Linked DNA regions of Homo sapiens. The protein of the gene in region 2 purifies or fractionates together with the protein of the main gene of each other region. This does not show direct contact. Each region holds a gene or a part of one and is shown on either strand. Other genes may lie near its edges.

The links.
Region 1: the proteins of C17orf75 (region 2) and ZMPSTE24 fractionate together in Homo sapiens (co-fractionation; one large-scale study listed by BioGRID). This does not show direct contact.
Region 3: the proteins of C17orf75 (region 2) and SLC35G2 fractionate together in Homo sapiens (co-fractionation; one large-scale study listed by BioGRID). This does not show direct contact.
Region 4: the proteins of C17orf75 (region 2) and C3orf18 fractionate together in Homo sapiens (co-fractionation; one large-scale study listed by BioGRID). This does not show direct contact.
Region 5: the proteins of C17orf75 (region 2) and GPNMB purify together in Homo sapiens (affinity purification with mass spectrometry; one large-scale study listed by BioGRID and IntAct). This does not show direct contact.
Region 6: the proteins of C17orf75 (region 2) and PDIA5 fractionate together in Homo sapiens (co-fractionation; one large-scale study listed by BioGRID). This does not show direct contact.

Annotation. Positions count from the first base shown.
Region 1 is NC_000001.11:40,264,736-40,268,235, forward strand, and holds part of ZMPSTE24 (CAAX prenyl protease 1 homolog), read left to right. Parts: intron 1-3,050; coding exon 3,051-3,137; intron 3,138-3,500. UniProt on the Homo sapiens protein: Transmembrane metalloprotease whose catalytic activity is critical for processing lamin A/LMNA on the inner nuclear membrane and clearing clogged translocons on the endoplasmic reticulum.
Region 2 is NC_000017.11:32,335,674-32,339,173, reverse strand, and holds part of C17orf75 (protein Njmu-R1), read left to right. Parts: intron 1-822; coding exon 823-966; intron 967-1,219; coding exon 1,220-1,277; intron 1,278-3,500. UniProt on the Homo sapiens protein: As component of the WDR11 complex acts together with TBC1D23 to facilitate the golgin-mediated capture of vesicles generated using AP-1. May have a role in spermatogenesis.
Region 3 is NC_000003.12:136,817,660-136,821,925, reverse strand, and holds the start of SLC35G2 (solute carrier family 35 member G2), read right to left. Parts: upstream 2,801-4,266; 5' UTR 2,298-2,800; exon of another isoform or gene 1,414-2,297; intron 1-1,413.
Region 4 is NC_000003.12:50,561,248-50,564,747, forward strand, and holds part of C3orf18 (uncharacterized protein C3orf18), read right to left. Parts: intron 501-3,500; coding exon 475-500; intron 1-474.
Region 5 is NC_000007.14:23,245,610-23,249,574, reverse strand, and holds the start of GPNMB (transmembrane glycoprotein NMB isoform b precursor), read right to left. Parts: upstream 2,801-3,965; 5' UTR 2,718-2,800; coding exon 2,648-2,717; intron 1-2,647. UniProt on the Homo sapiens protein: Could be a melanogenic enzyme.
Region 6 is NC_000003.12:123,143,525-123,147,024, reverse strand, and holds part of PDIA5 (protein disulfide-isomerase A5 precursor), read right to left. Parts: intron 1,504-3,500; coding exon 1,433-1,503; intron 927-1,432; coding exon 766-926; intron 1-765.

The DNA.
Region 1 (3,500 bases), on a different chromosome or scaffold from region 2:
TGAGTGTGGTGATGTGCACCTGCAGTTCTAGCTACTTGGAGGCTGAGGTGGGAGGGTTGCTGGAGCCCAGGAGATGGAGGCTGCAGTGAGCTGTGATCACACTGCTGTACCCCCGCCTGGTGACAGAGTGAGATCCTGTCTCAAAAAAAAAAAAAAAAAAAAAAAGAATGTAGTGAAATAATATATGTCAAAGCGCTGGAATTATTTTTTCTGGGATCATTAATTTTGCCATAGAACAACCCTGGGAGCATGCTTAGTGAAATTGTCAACATAGAGACATTGTACAGTTCACCATGCTTTGTTTTTCAGTCCCCAAAAGAAACTAAACATGCTTTGTTTTTCAGTCCCCAAAAGGTTTGCAGTATCAGTTTTCAAATGCATTTATAGATCATTCAGAATTCATATTAAAACTACCCTTGATGCTTATTTAAATACTGGACTTTTAATAATAGTTGCTGTGGCCTTTACTAAAAGCATTATAAGTCCTTAATTATACATTATTTATTAGTATTGGGAATTGGCTGAAAGAAATACCATCCCAGGTCAATTAGATCAACAACTACAGCATATGTCAGACAGTGGTACCAAAGCATGTCTTTTGGGAAAACAAGGTTTATGTCTAAGATTGAATTAGTTGTAGTAAAGTGGAAATACCTGGAGGTAGTGTTAGGGGAGCCTTTTGAAAAGCAATTTATTGGGGCTGAGTGCAGTAGCTCATGCCTGTAATCCCAGCACTTTGGGAGGCCACAGTGAGAGGACTGCTTGAGGCCAGCCTGGGCAACATAGTGAGACCCCATCTGTACAAAAAATTAAAATTAGCCAAGTATGGTGGTGCATACAGTCCTGGCTACTTGGGGGGCTGACATGGAAAGATCCTTTGAACCCAGGAGTTCAAAAATTCAGTAAGCTATGATCATAACACTGCTCCCTAGCCTGAGTGACAGAGTGAGACTCTGTCTCTTAAAAAAAGAAAACAATTTATTAAAGCAATGATTTTCAAACTTTAGTGTACATCAGGTTTACCTAGAAACTGCTGGGCCCCACTTCCAGCTTCTGATTTGGTACATCTGGGGTAGGGCCTGAGACTTTGCATTTCTAAGAAATTCCCAGATGCTGTTGCTGCTGTCCAGAGACCATATTTGAGACCCATGATATTAAACCAATCCAATGTACTGGTAACAGTCTAAAAGATGGATAGTTTAAAGTGTGGGTGAGATTGTGGGAAAACAGAAACACTGGAGTACTGCTGATGGGAGTGTAATTTGTTATAAACACTTTAGGAAATATCCTGATAATACCAAATAAAGTTGAAGTCCACCATGGATGGATCTAAGAAAATTTAGAATATAAAAAGCAAATCATAGACTGATAAGTATAATATGATGTCATTTATATACATTCTTTAAAAGCATACATAAATCACTATATTATTTGTAGATACATGTATGAAAATGGGAATTAGATTGGAAGGGTACCCATGAAATATGATAGTACCAAAACCCCTCAAACCATGAGGAACTATGTCTGAACCAGTGGGAATATTGTGCTTCTAGTCAAGGAATGTGATTGATCATTGTGTTCCTAAGCTGCTGTCCTACAGAGAGAAAAAATAAATTGATTCCTCTTGACAAATGAGTTCCACAAAGTTGTATGTGTTTTGGGCGGTAGAATTCTTAAACATGCATTCTTCTCAAATTTTGAGCTGCTTCCTAGCTCCTAATGTCCTGGTTATTTAGTGAATGTCTGTGTTCACTTTATCTGCCCAAGACCAAGACAAAGGGTGGTGCTGAGGAAGAGCCTTCTCCTGTGAAAGCCGGGCCCCTACCTCACCTCTTCCTGACCCAGCAAAGACACAGATAATCCCATTCTGTTCCCCAGTTTAGTAAGTGGACATGACTCTCCACTTCTGTGCTTTGTTCTGATGGAAAAGGACTATTTTCTTTCACAGAAAAGACAATTATGGAGCCATATTAATGTGGTTCAAATTCCATTTCTATCACTCATTAGCTGTTGGATTTCGAACAAGTTTTTTTTTTTTTTTTTTTTTTTTTTGAGACAGGGTCTCATTCTGTCACCCAGGCTGGAGTGCAGGCACGATCATGGCCCACTGCAGCCTCGACATCCCAGGCTCAAGCAATCCTTCTACCTCAGCTCCCCCGAGTAGCTGGGACCACAGAATCATGCCACCATAATTGGCTCATTTTTGTATTTCTTGTAGGGACAGGTTTCACCATGTTGTCCAGGCTGGTCTCGAATTCCTGAGCACAAGCAATCTGCCTGCCTTGGCCTCCCAAAGTGCTGGGATTACAGGCATATGCTACCATACCCAGCTGTTTAACCTTTCTAAGTTTAGTTTGTGATTTTGTTGTGGTCTTTTGACAAAAGGTTTTTTTTTGTTTTGTTTTAGAACAGCTTTATTGAGATAATTCATGTACCATACAATTCATATACCATACAATTCATCCATATATAGTGTACAGACAAAAATGTTATATTAACCACCTAAATTTAGTATCTCAATGGTTAGTACTCATCTAAATGCATAATTTATGCTAAATGTGAAATAGGTCTATTTTTTAAAAAAATATTTTATTTTGTTATTTTATTTTATTTTATTTTATTTTATTTTATTTTATTTTATTTTATTTGAGACAGGGTCTCAGTTTATTGCCTTGCTGGAGTGCAGTGTCACAATCACGGCTCACTGGAGCCTTGACTTCCCAGGCTCAGGCAATCCTGTCACCTCAGTCCCCCAAGTAGCTGGGTCTACAGGTACGCACTATCAGGCCCAGCTAATTTTTAAATTTTTTGTAGAGATGGGGTCTCAACTCACCTTGTTGCCCAGGCTGGTCTTGAATTCCTGGCCTCAAGCGATGCTTCTGTCTCAGTCTCCCAAAGTGCTGGGATTACAGGCATGAGCCACCGTACTGGCCTCTTTTGTTTTTTTAATAGAGATGATTATTTTGTCCTTTCTTTCTTTATACCATGCTTTCTCATATGATAGTTTCTAGTACTGTTCAACTGTGATCAAAGTATGCTTTGTTTTATAGCTTATTCTTCTCTTTGGAGGAATACCTTATCTCTGGAGACTTTCTGGACGGTTCTGTGGTTATGCTGGCTTTGGACCAGAATATGAGGTATGTGATTCATTAGCATGTATTTGTCATGGTATTTCTTTTAGCTTGGCAGGCTTTCCACTAAAGTTAATTTTTTGGCTTCTGCCAATGTTAAGATTTGCCTCTCTGTTTGCATAGTCCTTGGTTACCCATGCTGTATTGGCATAACATTAGTTACAATAACAAATCCCAGAATATCACAGGCTTATTTGCAATGGTTTATTTCTCAATCACGTAATAGTCCAGTGTGAGTATTTTTAGTTATCAGGTGACTTTCTTCCATGTGGTAAGCCAAGAATCCAGGCTCTTTATCTTAGGGATTTGTCTGTATGATTTAAGGTACCTTTCATATAGTGCCTGTGTAATAAAAAAGGAATTGTTTTG
Region 2 (3,500 bases):
AGGCTTAAACATGAGCATTCTTAGTCCAATTCCAACTGTCTTTCCATTACACCTCTCCTTTTTTGTTTTGTTTTGTTTTTTTTAAGACAGAGTCTCACTCTGTTGCCCAGACTGGAGTACAGTAGCATGATCTTGGCTTACTGCAACCTCCGCCTCCCTGGTTCAAGCAATTCTCCTGCCTCAGCCTCCCGAATAGCTGGGATTACAGGCATGCACCACCATACCCGGCTAATTTTTGTATTTTTAGTAGAGATGGGGTTTCACCATGTTGGCCAGGCTGGTCTCGAACTCCTGACCTCAGGTGATTCACCCGCCTTGGCCTCCCAAAGTGCTGGGATTACAGGTGTGAGCCACTGTGCCCGGCCTCCATTACACCTCTTTATTCTAGTTCAACTCAGACCGTGAAGTTAGCATACAGGTCCTCAGGAGTTTGAGGCCACTTCCCAAGGATAAGGCCACCTTCAGGCACATCTGCCTTAAACATCAATTTGTGAAGCTTTGGGAGAGGGGAGAACATACTTTTTTTTAATATAAACATGGGTATGAACTAGAGTGAAATTTGTGTGAATTTTTCACATAAGACAGGAGAATTCAAAGAAATTTCATGTATGTTAGTGGCTGCTTTAACTAAAGCCCTCCAGGGTATACATTCATTTTTCTTTGCTGCTGCAAGTACACCAACGAGAAGTCTGGGAAGCTCTGAGTTAGTGGGCAGTTTAATGGTGTTGCCAGATCAAGATGACCAGAATTCAGAGCAGTCCACAAAATTATAGATGCATGAGTAACCAAAATAATGCATTTTACATTTTCTTTCTTTTCTAGAATTCCAGGTTACCGAGTTGGTTGTTATTACTGCCTTTTCCAAAATGAAAAACTGCTTCCTGAAACAGTAACGATAGACTCTGAACGTAACCCTTCAGAATATGTGGTCTGTTTTTTAGGAGGGTCTGAAAAAGGACTTGAGCTATATCCTTTCTTTGGTTTTTGAGAACATCAGGAAGGAAAACATGGGAAGGCAGGTGGAAGAATATTACTACCAACCTCCAAAAAGCTTTTCTACTCCTCGTGTATTTAGTTGAATTTCATACCTTCATGTGGCCATTTTGCCTTGGCTTGTTTGCATTTGCAGCTCACATTATTTGAGAGATTTTATATTTCTTGTTGAGAGATGAAATACTGTCTTCATTATTCATCCTTTATTGCTTCCTTAAGAACATACTTTCAGGCTTGAATTGGACAAGTACATTCAAGGGCTGAAAAATAACATGAATTGTGAGGTAAGGTGACTGACTTAATGGTTTTTAAAGACTGAAATGGGGCCAGGCTCAGTGGCTCACGCCTGTAATCCCAGCACTTTGGGAGGCCGAGGTGGGCAGATCACAAGGTCAGAGACCAGCCTGGTCAATATGATGAAACTTCATCTCTACTAAAACTTAGCCAGGCATGGTGGCAGGCACCTGTAGTCCCAGCTACTTGGGAGGCTGAGGCAGGAGAATCGCTTGAACCCGGGAGGCAGAGGTTTCAGTGAGCCGAGATTGCACCACTGCACTCCAGCCTGAGCGACAGAGTTAAAAAAATAAAATAATGACTGAAATGATTAATATACTGTGATTGCTCTACTTGTCAAATCATATAGGTAGACACAAAGACGCCTGTATTCTAGAAACTTGCCACCTTGTGAGCTAGTAGAGAGGTGAATTTTTTTTTTTTTTAGACAGGGTCTTGCTTTGTTGCCCAGGCTGCAGGGCAGTGGCGCGATCAGGCTCACTGCAGCCTCAGCTTCTTGGGGCTCAAGCAGTCTTCTCGCCTCAGCCTCCTAAACAGCTGGGACTACAGGCAAATACCAACACGCCTGGCTAACTTTTGGTATTTTTTGTCGAGATGGGGATCTCACTTTGTTGCCCAGGCTGGTCTAGGATTCCTGGCCTCAAGCAATCCTCCCTCCTCAGCCACCCAAAGTGCTGAGATTACAGACACGAGCCATTGTGCCCAGCCTACAGGTGGTTTCTTTTTCTTTTTCATTTTTTGAGATAGGGTCTCACTCTATCACCCAGGCTGGAGTGCAGTGGCACGATCATGGCTTACTGCAGCCTTTTCTGGGCTCCAGCGATCCTCCCACCTCAGCCTCCCAAGTAGCTGGTACCACAGGCATGCACCACCATGCCCAGCTAATTGTATTTTTGGTAGAGGTGGGGTTTTGCCATATTGCCCAGGCTTGTCTTGAACTCTTGAACTGCTGAGCTCAAGTAATCCACCTGCCTCGGCCTCCCAAAGTGCTGGGATTACAGGTATGAACCACTGCACCCAGCCTACAGGTGATCTTAAAGGGATACAGGAAACATAGTCCTGTAAGTGCTGAAAGTTTCACAAGACTACGTCTGATGTTTTGTATCTATGAAAAATTCGATCTATTCAATGGCATGTAGTAACATGCCTGGCGAGGAAGAGGATGTCCTTTTCCTGATTTCTAGGCATATAAGATTTATATTATGGTCAGAAGTACTGGTCCATGCAGCCTCTGGCACCAAAGACATGCTATGCAATAGTATGGCTGTTCTTGAACTAAACATCAAAGATTCTTAAAAACATTCTATTTTCATTAATTGATCTTTTATGAATTAGGCATATCCATATCAACTTATTCAAACCTTTGAAAAACTGGCTGGGTGTGGTGGCTCACACCTGTAATCTCAGCACTTTGAGAGGCCAAAGCGGGCAGATCACTTGAGCCCAGGAGTTCAAGGCCAGCCTGGGCAACAAAGTGAAACCCCATCTCTACAACAAATACAAAAATTAGCCAGGCATGGTGGCACGCACCTGTAGTCCCAGCTACTTGGGAGGCTGAGGTGGGAGGATCGCTTGAGCCTGGGAAGTTGAGGCTGCAGTGAGCTATGATTGCACCACTGCACTCCAGCCTGGATGACAGAGTGAGACCCTGTCTCAAAAAAGCAAACAAAAACAATGCTTTCAGCTTGTAGCAGTTGTTAGTCATGACTCTCACAAATTTACTACCCATTACATATATAGTAGAAGTTATACTTTTCACATACTTAGAAGATACTGCAGGAGAGAGGAAGGGATAGTGCAGGAGTGAGCAACTGATGCAAGTCTAATAGAGTTGTTCTCCCGGACTAGAGCTCTTCGTGTGTGACACTAGTCTTCAGGGAGCAGTATAGCCTAGAAAGCCAGATGTGCTCACGGTAGCATGTCTGACATCTGGAGTGGAGTGGAGTGCTTTGATGAGTTACTTGTATCCTTCCCCATTCACATTCTGAATACGAATGAATTCTCTATCTACATGACTAATTCAAAAGGCACTTAATAAGCTCATACTATGCATGTTTTAGACACTGTACCACAGGTGCCAGGGAAATGAGGATTATTGAGTGAGTATCTCCATTGAGTGCACAGTACAGTGGGAGGAGAGGGACTTGTGAGTGCCCAACTCTTCCCTGTGAAGAAATAGCATGGAACCCTATTCAGTCTCTTCATTTTATAGA
Region 3 (4,266 bases), on a different chromosome or scaffold from region 2:
AGAATCGAGGAGTAGAATGGTGGTTTCCAGGGACTGGAGGGCAGGGGAAAATCAGGAGTTATTAATCAACAGGCATAAAGTCTCAGTCAAGCAAGATGCATAAGCTCTAAAGATCTGCTATACAGCATTGCACCTATCAACAATACATATCAACAATAATGTATTATACACGTAAAATTTTGTTAAGAAGGCAGGCCCGGGTGCAGTGGCATACGCCTGTAATCCTGGCACTTTGGGAAGCCAAGGCAGGCAGATAACCTGAGGACAGGAGTTCAAGACCAGCCTGGCCAACATGGTAAAACCCTGTCTCTACTAAAAATATAAAAACTAGCTGGGTGCGGTGGCCAGCTACTCAAGAGGCTGAGGCAGGAGAATCCCTTGAACCCGGGAGGCAGAGGTTGCAGTGAGCGGAGAGCACGTCACTGCACTCCAGTCTGGGCAACAAGCAAGACAATGTCTCAAAAAAAAATTTTTTTTTTGTTCAGAGGATAGATCTCATGTTACATATTCTTTCCACAATAATTTTTTTAAGTCTAAAAAATTGGACATAAATGTTCATTATGGGATTGTTTAAAAAACTTACATTCTATCCACACAGATCAATATTATGCAACCCTTAATAATGATGACCTAGTTTTATGATGAAAGACATTAATTATAAATTATATAGCAAAAACGCAACCAATAGAGGATTGGTCCATTTAAAATGTATGCATGTTCATCTAAATGAAAATCTGTTTACAATGGTTTTCTATGTTTATGCATTTCTCTATTACCTAAAATTCTTATAATGAGCATATATTTTTTAAGGAAAAAACAATACCAATGTTTTTGAAAAATACAAATGTAAACTTTAAGAACTTCACACAAACCACATACCACCAATATATTTAAAATTGTCTGCATTATGATACATTTTAGTCATATGTTAAGATTATAAATTTCTATGATTATTTATATGTTGTTCTTATTAAAATTTACATTAATTCATTTTCCTTAAGCTTTCTTTAAGGAATTTTTTTGGTATCAATATCAATTTTACATCTTCCTAGACTTTTGTTCTGGAATGTAAATGAGTATAAATACTTAATTGCTCAGCCAAATACCAAACACTTCAATCCACAGGCTCTGTGCCTTTGGAACAGATGATTATGAAAATAAATGGCTCTGCAGAGTTCACATTTACTAGAAGTGTCAAAAAATAAAGATGGATTACAAAAGCTCTAAAAAATGTGTGGCTTGTAGTGTGTAATGGTTTTCAAAAGGGATGAGTGTATTTGCATGTGTGTTAGGTTTGTGCGTAAATGCACATACCTGTATCTTTCATAAGTATATGTGAGAATTCCTGTTTACGCTCATGGTGTGTACTTTCTCATAGGTAATAAAATCTGTTATGCATATGCTTATCTGTACCTCCAAGGCAAGCCACATTTGCTTTCGGGTTATGTTCAGGAAACCAGCCTCAACTTGTCTGAAAAGAGTTTCAGTGTTGGGCCTGCTCCACTCTGGCCACCAGCCATGGAGATGGGCTATTTTTGGCAAAGGTGCAGAGTAGAAGGGCAACGCAGGCCGCGGCCCAGGAAGTCAGTCGACGAGGGCGCGCGAGGCACTTCAGCACCACGGACATAGGCAAGCCTGAGCCAAGTCCTTTCCCGCGGAGGAAGATCGCTCCTCCGGAGCTACCCCCAGCCCTCTGGACCTACCCCCAGCCCTCTGGACCCACCCCCAGCACTCTGGACGTGGGGGGTTACTATCTCCAGGTCCTCGATCAACACTCGGACCCGAGCTTTCCGCCTCGCTCCTCGCGGAGCCGGGTGAAAGAAAACCTGGCCCGAGATGCAGGTCCGCGCTGAGCCTTCATCCGCCGCAACACGAGTCTCTTTCCTGCCGGCCCGCGCGACCCTTCTTCCCTCTCCTCCTCTCAAATGAGGCCAAATGGGTGCACGTGGCGTAGAAATTCTACAGCGCCCAGAGCACTGTGAGGAAAGATTCGCCTTTTCCTCCCCGTGGCTGCTGGAGGCTGTGCGGACTTGCCCTGAGCCTTCTCCGCCACTCTCGGCCGTGACGAGGCCCTTCCTCCACTAACCCTTGCCCTCGTCTTCCCTTGGGAAAAGATGTCTACAAACCGTCGATGTACCACGAAAATCTCAGCGCCCACAGACTGGCGTTCAAGAGTCATGGACATGAGACAAGAGAGTAATGGAAAATACAAATTCTTGGCCATATTTCTAAAATCATCCAGCCTTTTTTAAAACTTGTATTTGAAATTGATCCCATATGACGCCACAGTGACTCACCCCTTGCTTGGGTTGGCTACTGGGCGAGAGGAAAGCAACAGCCCCTGGCCTTCATCATGGACGCTGCAGGAGGGCCCAGACACGCGACAGCGGAAAGAAACGGGAAACCGGGCCGTAGCCGATGCTGGCCCTCCCGTCCCCGTGTCCCGGTTCTCCAGGAGGGCAGCACAGAGAAATGCGGGCCCCGCGGCCTTTCAGGCGTCGTGCAGAGCACCCCGAAGTCTGCAAAGCGGGCGGGGCGCGTCGCCCCCAGCCCGGCCCTTACCCAAAAAGACTGTTGTGCCCCTTAGGTGTGGCGGCTAAACGCGGGTGTGTGGAGTTCGGGGTCCGCTCTCATTCCCTTGTCGGGCGGCCGGGCAGGCAGGATCAAGGTCCCAGTCCGCCGCCGCCGACCGGCTCCCGGGGCCCGGTTACCTGCGTGTCGTGGCGAGGAAGGTGCCCCGGAGGCGACTGACGCGGGCGTGCCCTCGCCTGGGAAAATCGAGGCGGGCGCTGCCCGGAGTACTGCGGAGGGAGAGGGGCGCCGCCGCGCGGACTCTGCGCCTGCGCTCTCCGCCCTCCGCCGCCCCCACCCCACAACCTGACTGGCGCCGGAGTTGGAGACTGCGGGGGACGCTCAGGGTTGTGCCTGAACTGAAGGACTTCCTCTACCCGCGAGGTGGGAGGGTCCACGGGAAAGCGCCCGCCCGGGCCCCTCTAGCTTACGCCCTTGGAGGGCGCTTGTTTGAAGCAATTGCCTGTCTGCCAGGGCTACGTAGTCCGCTGCAAGTGGGCACGGAGGCAGTTTCTGTCCATTTCCACCCATTGTTTGCGCTTAAAAGTCGCAAGTCTATTCCTTCATGTTTAAATATGTGTCCAGCATCGGAAAATCGTGGTCCGGAAAAGTCTTCGGGCATCCCCGAGTCCACCCGCCATTTTACTGATAAGGTCTCTGAGGGAAGGGTCTTGACACTGCACAGCTGGTTCTTCTACCCAAGTGCATATGCCCCAGTCCCAAGTGGAATGAATATAGCCTCTTGGAAACAGACTGGTCATTAAAAGCAGTGGATTTGATGGGTCCAGGGGACAGGCAAGAAAGGGTAAGGGCTGAACCAAGGTGCTGGCTGTGGGAAAAAACAGGAGGTGCTTGCTGGTTTTTCCTCTGTCCCTTCAGACCCACTCTCCACTCTGCTCTGTGACTCAGGACTGACCTTTATGGGCTACGTCAACTATAATCTGGCTTTCAATTGGTTTTGGCAAGTGGGAGGCACCTGCAGATCAGAAGGCAGGATGTGATTCAGGACCTCCCCTGCATCCCCAGCGGGCCACCCTGTTAGCAGTGGCTATGTTCTTCATCTGAAAGCCATTACTCCCATCCTGTGGCCCTCTCCTGCAGTTTTCTCCAGGTTCTGGTTACCACTAACTACCCTTGCCCCTTCAGGCCTGGAGTGGGTAATGACGCCCAGAGGTTTCCTTTAACCCCATCCACACCTTTTTAAATAGTCCCTTCATTAAACTCTCCTCAACTATCCCATCTTTTCCCCACCTTTCCAGGACGCTATAATAGATTTTAGTCCATTGCGGTTGGCAAAATTCATGAGGACAAAAATATATGTAAAAGAAATACGGGGCTTTTAAAAGGCGAGAAGTCTTCCAGAGCCATCTTGACAGTTCCCTGGGCTCCAGGCAGCCAGCATGCTAGGTGGTCTCCCCACTGGGCCCCATAGCCCGAGGGTGCTAGTTTAGGTAGACCCAAGAATGGAATTCAGACTGCTCATAAACAGTGTGATCACCAAAGGGCTGGGGATCATTTCAGAGTCCAGCATAACAGGATTTTGGATTCCTCTTGAGGTAGAGAGACAATCTAGATCTTTATAGAGCAAGTGCTGGTGCTCTCCCAACTACAGCTGGGCTGCTTTTGAATGAGTCAATATTCTTAGGACACTTAAGAGAGTCCTGGAAACAGTGTCTGACAAGTGTGCTTAACAAG
Region 4 (3,500 bases), on a different chromosome or scaffold from region 2:
AAATGGGTAGCCAGGGAGGCAGCAGTTACCCACTCCAGGGTAAGGCCATACGCCAAGTAGCTGTCATCCATGGGCCCCACAGAGATCACCTAGGCTAGGGCCTTGCTGTAATCCACAGCGTCTGAGTCTCAGGTGGGACTGGGGAGCCAGTAGCAGTCAGCTCAGAGCAGCAGGGCAAGGGTGGCTGGGCAGTTGGGTGGGAGTAATCCCAGCCTTCCCCCTCCCTGCCATCCCCAGTCCCAGGATTATACCCAGTTATCTAGAATCCTCACACCTGCCTGCCCTGTGTGTGAGATCCTTGTGCAAGGGGGGCCCTCAACCCTCCCCAAAGGAAAGTGGTCACCCCCAACCATGAATGGGCAGGACAGGCCTTGACTCCCTGATCAGCTTTTCACCCACTTCCTTCGGAGCCCAGCCCAGCACTCCCCATGGCCTCAAGTTTTGGGTGGGATTTGGGTTTGGGTGGGGAATTACCTCTTCTTCTTCCTGATGTACAAAACCTGCAAGAGAAGGAGCAGCATCAAATGGCAAGGAGAGGAGGCCCTGAGGAACCCAGCAGCCCTTCTGGATGGGGACATGCTGAGGCTGATGAACAAGAGACCCGTGGGTCCCCGTCCTAATGACACATACACCACTCCCCCTTCACCTTCATGCCTCTTTTTTTTTTTTTGAGACAGAGTCTTGCTCTGTCACCCAGGCTGGAGTGCAGTGGCACAATCTCGGCTCACTGCAACCTTCGCCTCCAAGGTTCAAGTGATTCTCCTGCCTAAGCCTCCTGAGTAGCTAGGATTACAGGTGTGCACCACCACACCCGGCTAATTTTTGTATTTTTAGTAGAGATGGGGTTTTACCATGTTGGCCAGGCTGGTCTTGAACTCCTGACCTTGTGATCCACCCGCCTCGGCCTCCCAAAGTGCTGGGATTACAGGCGTGAGCCACCACACTGGCCCCATGCCTCCTTTTGACATTGTTAGCTGCAGACAGTGCCCAGACTGAGTCTGGGGACTCAAGAGGCTCCCTCCAGCCTGGGAGCCCACACAGTTAGGCCCGGCCTGGGGACTGGTGGGCCCCACCTATTGGCTGGGCTGCCAATACTAACTGTAGCTCCAGCCACTCAGCACCTGCCTGTGGCTCCCCAGGGCTGAAGAAGAAAGGGAAAACTTCAGCACATTCCCTCCCCTCAACTCTTCCCAGGCTCAAAGCCACATGCAGGCAAAAAGTAAAGGGACCCGGTAAGGTAGCACATGCCTGTAGTCCCAGTTACTCAAGAGGCTGAGGCAGGAGGATCTCTTGAGCCCAGGAGTTCAAGTCCAGCCTGGGCAACATACTGACACCCCGTCTCTACAACATGTAAAAAGAACCAGAGACAGGCAGTGGCCAGACTCTGTAGCGTGTAGAGCAGTGGCTCTAGGCAAGGCCCTGAGCTGGTGGTCTCCGGAGTTCCTATGGGAGGCTGACGGCCCCCAGTGGACTAAGGTAGGGGTGGGGGACTGGAGCCCCTAGGCATCAGCCCAGGTCAACTCCCAAAAACTCTGATGCAAGAGGAACCTAAGAAGGCCCCTAGGTCCGGTCCCCCATTGTACAACCTTGAAGATGAGGGCCTAGGCAGCCTGAGAAAACATCTAGGACCTCTAGGCCAGAGTAAGAAACCCTGTACAATGCCCTGAGGAGAGGGAGGAAGTGGGTAAGACTTGGGGGACCACCTTGGGCGGGGAATCCAGGGACTTCTGCCATCATCCTGCTCTTCCCTAAACTGGCAGTTTCTGACTACCAGGAGCATGACTACCTCTGCCTCGGGGAAAGCACAGCCCTGTGGTTTACCCCAAATCCTCCCACATTCTTTGTGCCCCATTCACAGCTTGAATCTGGTTTGATTTCCAGCCTGGCCCAGAGCTCCTCCTGCAGGACCCCCAAAACCTGAAAAGAAACTAGGGTATCAATCCTCACTCTCCCCTCCTGTCCAGGGTTGCATGTAGGGGTGCTCCCTTGCTCTCCTGTGGGTAGGCTGTGACAGGAACTCTGGGGTCTTCTGGCCTAGCCCCTGCCACCCTGAGCAAGTGGATCCAGCCCCAGCCCCAGCCCCTGTGGTCCCCACCTCTCAGCCCTTGCCCCAAGCCCTCCTCCCTCCCCTGAGACCCTGGGATTCAGAAGGATCTACAGAAAAGGCCAGAACCTTTACGCAATTTCCATGCCTTTTCCCCTCTTCCTCAGCTAACAGCCACCCCCACACCTTCCTTTCCAAATCTTCCCTACCCCTCACTGTCCAGCAGGTGCAGCCCCCTCTCCTCCAGGAACCTCCCCCACCACTGATCCTGGTCTGCCTGTACCAAGCACTTTTCCTTCCTGGGTAAGGCAGAAAGCCTGGTGCAGATTTGCTCCTCCTTGTACCCACGGCCCTGCTTGAGGCTGGCATCGGGGAGAGGAAGCAGCACTCAGTGAGCACCTCTGGGCCTGTCTCCGGTCCCCAGGAGCTATCTTCTGCCCTCCGCTGCCTTTGTCCTACGAGCTTCCTACCTCTGATTTTGGCAAGAGGGGCATCCACCCAGGCCTTCTGAATGTTCCTCTAGAACAAAGAGTAAGAGAGCGTTCTCAAGTTCCAAGGACAAAACCTTTCACTGAAAGTAACGAGGGCAGTTTCTAGGCCCCATTCTGCCCTTAAGGGTGCCTCCATCTGCTTACCCACTGCATGGGTGCCAAGGGAAAACACTGGCATCCTGCCTTACCTCCACCCAGGAGACCTCTCAGGCCCTGGCCTCATTCTGCCTGTGCTGCACCCTGGGCCTGCTTGCTGGCTGGCAGTTGCTCCCTGGCAGCAATCTGGAGCCTGTGGGGCCCATATGGCAACCCTGGTTTAACAGCAGCTCCAACCAGGCCATGATGGGCCATCCACAGCCCTACTTGTCAGAGCAACATGCTCCTAAGCCCAAGGCCAGCCATCAGAGCCTGCGAGGAGCAGTGGGCAGAATCCTACCATTGCCAGGCATACTGGGGAACCTCAGGGGCACCCCATCCTCCCTAGTCTCAGCCTGCACGATCTCCAGTGGTCCCTCAGTGACATTCTGAGTGTCCATGTATCATCTTAGGGGGACAGCCCATATCCTTAGGGACTGACACCAGATCAAGAGGCATCACACTCACTACTGAAGGATACCTGCAGCCCTCTCCCCAGCCCCCTTCCTTCCTGATGGCTGCCACCTCCACCCCTTCTCATGACACGGAGGCCAGGCTTCCACTTTGAGGTCTCAGCTCTAATTTTGCTCCTCAGCTGTTCCTAACCACCTAGTCTGGAAAGCATTCCTGCTTTCCTGCTTGAGTCCCCAAGTCAGTCCCTGCAGGCTTCCCTTGGAACCCTTGGTTTTTATCTGTTTCCCACTCCCTGTAAGAACCACAGGGCAGGACCTTGTCTTCCCAGCCTCTATTGGGTTCCAAAGGCCTGGTCCAGGGCAGGTACTCAGTAAATAATTGCCAAGTGAATAAATGAATGTTCACTGCCAACAGCC
Region 5 (3,965 bases), on a different chromosome or scaffold from region 2:
AGCAAATCTCAAAAGGTTACATACTGGATAATTCCATTTGTATAGAATTTTGGAAATTACAAAATGATAAAAATGGAAACCAGATTAGTGGTTGCCAGGGACTGGGTGAGGTTTGGAAAGAGGGAAGTAGATTTGGCTATACATCTATAGCCATGAGAATACTTTGGTGATGGAGCTCTGCTGTGTTTTCACTGTATCAATGTCAATATCTGGGCTGTGATGTCCTGTTTTGCATGATGATACCACTGGGGCAAACCAGGTAAAGGGTGCATGGGGATCTCTCTGTATTATTTCTTACAACAGTATGTGAATCTATAAATACCTCACAATAAAAAGTTGAATTTAAAAATAAAGGCCGGATGCAATGGCTCATGCCTGTAATCCCAACACTTTGGAAGGCTGAGGGTGGGCGATTGCCTGAGCCCAGGAGTTCCAGACCAGCCTGGGCAACATGGCAAAACCCTGTCTCTACAAAAATTTAAAAAATAAAATAAACCCATCCGGATAAGGTGGCTCATGCCTGTAGTCCTAGCATTCTGGGAGGCCAAGGGAGGACTGAGCCCAGAAGTTTGAGGCCAGCCTGGGCAATGTAGTAAGATCCCATTTCTACAAAAAATACAAAAATTATCTGGGTGTGGTGGCACGTGCCTGTGGTCCCAGCTACTCAGGAGGCTGAGGTGGAAGATCACCTTTAGCCCAGGAGTTGGAGGCTGCAGTGAGCTGTGATCACACCACTGCACTCCAGCCTGGGTGAGAGTAAGACCCTGTCTCTAAAAAAATTGATTAAAAAAAAAAAAACCCAATAGTAAGCAGATTTTAAAAGAAAAATAAAAGCCTGTGGGGGTGGGTTTTGGGGGCAATCAATGTGAAGGTAAATTTGAGGTCGCACCCAGTGCTGCAGCCGACTCTGCCTCCACACTTTGGCATCCTTGCTGTGTCCACCAGCAGAGAGGTGGTGGCTGGGCTGCCTCCACCTACCTTGTCCACACTTTCTCCTTCCTTCAGGGCTACGAATGGAAAATGGTAGGAAATCTTTAGTGCTTGATACACTGCTACATTCTGCCTGCCCTTATTTTTTTCTGGGCAGAATATTTAGTCCAGAGCAAGGTGAACCTGGTGAATGGCTGGGTTTTGTTACACTGCCCAAGAGGCTGAGGACTCCTCTCGAGCTGACAGCGCTGATTCGGCCTCCTGCTAATCTGTTTTATTGAGCAGAGCGAAGTGGACTGGTGAAAGAGGGTGGAATAATAGCAGGTGTCCCCCATCGGGTCTATTCTGTGTTCCTTCGTCTTTAAAGTAGCCTGTCCTGGGAGGTATCCTGAGGGTGGGTGCAGGTCTGCCTCCGTAGGAACAATCCCCACCATGCACGTCTCTCACGCCAAGCAGCTGATCTCACAAGAACACAATTACCCAGTTTTGCAAATGAGGAAACGAAAACTCCTCGTTTTGAAGGAAATGAGGAAATGGAGCAAAGCCACTGGAGACCCAGCCCCTAGGCTGGCGGGGAGCCCGAGCCTGTCCAACCCCAAACCCGGGCAGGAAGGACAGAGGTCGGGATGGAAGGCTGCCTCCTCAACTTACCCGCTGTGTGGCTTGGGGCGAGTTCCTTGCCCACTCTGTGGCCCGTGGCCTCGTGTGGGAAGCGGGACCATCACAGTGCCGGGCTCCGCGGGCTGCTAGGAGGACGCGCGGCGCACTGCGGGCCGGGAACGTGCTGCGCGCTGACACCGGGTCAGCTCCCTGTGATGGGACTTCCTTTCCAAAAACGTAGGCGTTTTCCCGGGTCGCAGTCGCAGTCGGGAGACTGAGGGTTAGGGCGCGGCCGCGGGGTCTCCTGGGCCGGGGCGCGGCCCACGTCTCAGGCCTCTGCGGCTCTGACCAGAAGCCGCTGCGCCTTTGGCCGCTTCCCACCCGTCCCGTCCCCGCAATCCCAGGCCCAGGGTTACAGCGGCTCAGCTCTCTTCCTCTCGCGAATCTGCACACTGCTTCAGTGGTCTGGACCCTGGCTGCATAGGCAGATCCCAAGAGGAACTTTTAAAACAAGGATCCTCTGACCCCACTCCCAAAGATTCCGGTTTCATTGCGTGGGTATCAGTATTGTTAAAAATGCCCTGGCCTCTCCTGCCTGACCAGGGTAGAGAGCCTGGGCTTCAGCTCCTCTCCCAGCAAGCTCCTGCAGGTCTGTGAGGAAGCCCCGCAGGAGGAGCAATAGCTTCAGGGCTGGGGAGATTCGTAAATTTGCCTCCAGATTGGAGACCCCATTTCATGTGAGGTCTCCACCCTTTTGGATGGAAGCTGGACATAGTTTAGTTGGTGGAGTTGCTTTGTTCTGTGGCCGGAGGCTGTCCAACCCTCCCCCAACCACTGTCTGGCAAGAATGGGTTGCAATTGCAATGGAAAAGAAGCTTCACAAGAGAAGGGCAGCATAGTTTTTACTTTCCATGAGCCGAAAGCAAAGAATGGAGCTGGAGGCATTTTGCTGTAGTTTCAGCCTTCCCAACAGTTTGCAGAAGAAGAGATGAGTGAGCCAGAGATGAAAGCTTCCTGAAGAACTTCAGTCCAACCTCTAGTTCAGAGGATATTATTAGCCATCATTTCAGCCAATGGCCAGAGAATGGGTTAAACATAGAAATTAAGGGTTACTCACGTTTGGCGGCATCAAGTGGCAATCTTGCAGCCAGGAGCAGAAATCCCAGGAAATAGTAGAGACATTCCATGCTGAATTCTCACGGACGCAGGCACTCAAGGTTTAACTCTGAATTCCTCTGGGCCCGTCCACCAAGAGCAACAGTGTTCTTCTGGCATCTGTGGTGCCTCCCTCTCTATTTTAATTAAATACAGGGCCTCGGGGAGGATCATGTGATGGTATTAAGCGGCACTGCCTGATCTGGTCTCTCAAGTTCAACCTCTTACAACTCATGTGCTTATGACTCACTCCTTCTTGGCATCTATTTATTCACTTTTCAGATGCACATTATTTCAATTTTGTGATTCCACATTTACTAGATTCAAGGAGTTTTTTTCCTATAGACTCTATTTCAATATTCATTTTTTTTTTTTGAGATGGAGTCTCACACTGTCTCCCAGGCTGGAGTGCAATGGCACGATCTCAGCTCACTGCAACTTCCACCTCCCAGGTTCAAGCCATTCTCCTGCCTCAGCCTCCTGAGTAGCTGGAATTACAGGTGCCCGCCACCATGCCCGGCTAATTTTTTGTATTTTTAGTAGAGGCAGGTTTCACTATGTTGGCCAGGCTGGTCTCGATCTCCTGACCTTGTGATCTGCCCGCCTCGGCTTCCCAAAGTGCTGGGATTACAGGCATGAGCCACCGCGCCTGGCTCAATATTCTTTACCAAATAAAATTTCAATCCTCCAGCCTCACTGATTATCGACTTACTGTGGTTCCTATACTGCATCAGGCACCCAGCTCACGTTTAGAGTTCACAGTTACGCACCCTTTCCTAAGATGTAGTTGTCCACCTGCTCCTGTGCTCGTGATTGCTTGTATATTTTTTTCCTCCAAGAGGAAGCAAAGATGGGGGAGGTGTCTTATCAATCATTTGAAATTGTGGAATACATAAGTGGATGATAACATGAATGTTGTGCCAGGATGTGCTGGAAACAGCTGCCCAGGCCTCTGGTAGCTGAGAAATTTACTCAAAAGCACATTTAGAATATCTGTGCAATTCCATATAACTTTTGTAATAACCTGCATAATTTTTGGTAACTGCTCTCAAAGCATTTATGTGTTGCATTACTCAGAGCCAATTGCATAAAACGTTCTGTGTATTTTTTCATATTATAGAAAGCAGGCATTAAATGTACAAACAAGTGTGTCTGTAAGATAAATTTATACAGTCAAATCATTCCTGGTTACAGAGTATGCAGAAAATGTGGCAACATGAAAACTTTACCATATGTGACCTTTCTCAAACTCACATTCACATGGCCATTTTCAGTGCAGT
Region 6 (3,500 bases), on a different chromosome or scaffold from region 2:
AGCCTGGGCAACATGGTGAAACCCCGTCTCTACTAAAAATACAAAAAATTAGCCAGGCATGGTGGCATGTGCCTGTAATCCCAGCTACCTGGGAGGCTGAGGCAGGAGAATCGCTTGAACCTGGGAGGTGGAGGTTGCAGTGAGCCGAGATCATGCCTCCAGCCTGGGTGACTAAGTGAGACTGTCTCAAAACAAAACAAAACAAAACAAAATTGTAAGAAAATAAACTTCTGTTATATTGTTATATTATATTGTTGAGCCACCTGGTCTGTTACTTGGTTATGGCAACACTAGCAAACTAATACATAGGCTGAGGGGGCTCTTCAAAATCTTTATCCTCAGTTGCAAACCACCATAGCCTGCCCTGTGGACATTACTGGAGGCCCAGCCAACCACTAGCAAACCTGGACGAAATGAGTCTAGCTCTGGCTATGAAGAGCTGTGTCTCCTTCATTTATTCAAAGGGAGTGGAATAAAATGCAGACAATAAGATCTGGGCCTAAGGAGGCTGAGACAGAGAAAAAGCAACACACGGTTTAGTGCGTCGATGAAGCTGCGTCCAGAAGGACTGCCAGCAGTGACCTGATCAAGACACGTGATCAGCATATGAACGGTGGTTTTAGGGTTGAGGAAGTCAGATCCGTCTTGACTCCTACGGGCATGAGCCCAGGACATTGACCATAAAGTTTACTTCACCTCCTCAAGGTGGTCTCCAGGGGCCGCCAGCTGGCAGTTAGGATGTGCTACTGAGATCGTAACACTTACTTTTGCATCCACTCGAGAAACTTCTTCTTTGTCCTGAGCACAGGCACTGCGTATTTCTCTCCATTCTTAAAATACTTCAACGTAGGAAACTCTGAGATGTGGAATCTTTCTGCCAGGGCCTTGTTGACAGTGGCATCGACAGCTGCAAGGACACCAGAGCTCTGGGATGGGGGAAAGGCCAACCATGCATTACAGCCTCAGATGCGGTGCTGGTGGAACACAGGAGCCCAGACGCTGCCCCCACAACCCATCCTGGACCTGCTGGAATTTAACTGGGGTGGCTAGCCCAGTGGGCTCCCATATCCCAGGGAACAACTGAACATTGGCACGGCCATCATTTCTCATTTATGAGCTGAGATGAGGCTTTTGAATCTGCCCCACCAGCCACGTTGAGTAGATTGGCACCTGTTCCTGTTAGCCAGGGTCCCAGAGAAAAGAGGGAGCAGGCAGAGGTCACCTGGATGGGCACGGGAACATGGGCCAGTAGTCTTTCTGCCCCCTCTAGGATCCCATCTGTCTAAGATGTTCTACTTGGGCACACAGAGGTACTGCTGGCCTCCACGGACCACGGGAGCTGCAGCAGGGCTTGCAGGGGAAAGTCATAATGATTCCACCTGTCAGTGATTCTTTCAAAGAGAACGGTGAGGGGGAAGGAAAGGAAGCTTACATCCGCTTCTCCATGGAGGGCTTCTGCTGCCTTCTCAAACTCCGGCTTCATTTTCTTACAGTGGCCACACCCTGTGGGGAGAGATCAAGAGAAACCATTCTTATGGCACAGAGGCCCTCGGGATGCTCCCCTGCGCCGCCTCTGTAAGGCAGCTCAGTCCCATTCCCAGACACCTGAGAAAAGCAGCAGCAGCACCAGCTCAAAGAAAAGAAATATTTTGCATAATCCACCAGAAGTGGGTTGGGGTAGTGGGAAGGTACCCCAGACACAAAAATAAAACAACTGCATAAATAATACGGGCAACTGGTGTGCCAGGTACTGACCAGTGCCTTACAGCCTCATAACTACCCCACAAAGTAGGAACTGACATTATCTCCATTCTATGGATTAGACAATTGAGGCACCAAGAGGGCAGGTGACTGCCCAAGGCCATATACACAGCCATGGTCACAGAGCTGGGTTGAAAACCCAACCATCTGGTGAGAGGCCCTAGCTGCAGGCAGCGTGTAGGTTGTGGCACCATGCTGTGATCACCATCATCATCTTCTCTGGACAGAAGGCAGTCTGAGGCCTTGAGCTGGGCACAAAAATTCACAGAAGCATAAGTATGGGACATAATTACATTCTAATTGTCCCCATATGACATGATGGGAATTTTTTGGGATAGAAACTGCTCTGTCCTTTTCTTTCTTTTTTTTTTGTTTTGAGATAGAGTCTTGCTCTGTCTCCCAGGCTGGAGTGCAGTGGCGCCATCTCTGCTTACCGCAAGCTCCGCCTCCTGGGTTCATGCCATTCTCCTGCTTCAGCCTCCCACGTAGCTGGGACTACAGGCACCCGCCACCACGCCCGGCTAATTTTTTTTGTACTTTTTCAATAGAGATGGGGTTTCACTGTGTTAGCCAGGATGGTCTCGATCTCCTGACCTCGTGATCCACCCACCTCGGCCTCCCAAAGTGCTGGGATTACAGGCGTGAGCCACCGCGCCCAGCCTGCTCTGTGCTTTTCTTACAGCTGCATGAACACAGTAAGATGTCAGAAATAATAAAATTTGATGCATTAAAAAGAAATTAAGCACTTTGTGTAAATGACAGACCTTGACATTTGTACATTGTTTTCATTTTAATAGAAAGAGTACTTTCTGGCCTCTGATGCTGGAGGGACTGGGAGGTGAGGGGTCTGCAGACTGGCTCAGGATGGAGGCTGCTCAGAAGGTAAGCCTGGCTGTGCGGGGACCATGCATTAACTAGGATCAGCGGATGACAGGTCGTGACTCAACCTTCTCAGGGGTGTGCCACTGTGTGGGAGCTGAGAACGCTATAATTCTACTACTGATTGTTAGGAAAAAGAAAGACAAGAAGAAAGCAAGACAGAAAGTCAAACAGTGTAATCAGAGGAGACCTCCCACTGAGCTACGGAATCGGCTTTCCTGCCTCCAGCTGAGCACCCGGCAGGGGTGAAAGCTCCTGTCTCCTCCTCCAAGGCCATTTCTGCAGAACTCAGCTCCAGGTGAGACATGAACCTGTCTCGTTCTTAATCTCTCCATTTCACTCCTGCCTGTACCTGGCTTCCTCAGCTCATCCTCACCCTGTCCCTCCCAGGGACAAGGGACCCCGGAGTGGCTACTCCCCACTTAACTGATAACAGAAAACCAAACTGATCCTTGAGCTCCCAGGCAGTGTTGTGAAGCTCCTCCTCTGGACAGAGCACTGGAGACATGACTCGGTCAAGGGCACTGACCCTCATGGAATGCAGCCCAGGGAGTGGCTACAGTGCTTAGCCACATCAACATGTCAGCTCTTCCCAGGTGGATCCAAGGAAGAGAGACACTGCTAACCCTCAAGTGGGAGGCTCCACAACAAGAAGAGGAGGAACTGCTGGGTATACAGGCACCTCTGCTGCCATTATCTAGGGAGCTGCCTACTCCTGTTGGGCTATGATGCAGAAGAAAGGGTAGAAAAGGCATCAGCCCTTAGAATCTTCCAGCATAATGACAGAGAGGACCATGGTCTTTGGTCCAGAGGGGAATAGAGTGGCACACATGATGCCTTCAAGGGATGAACCAGAGGAA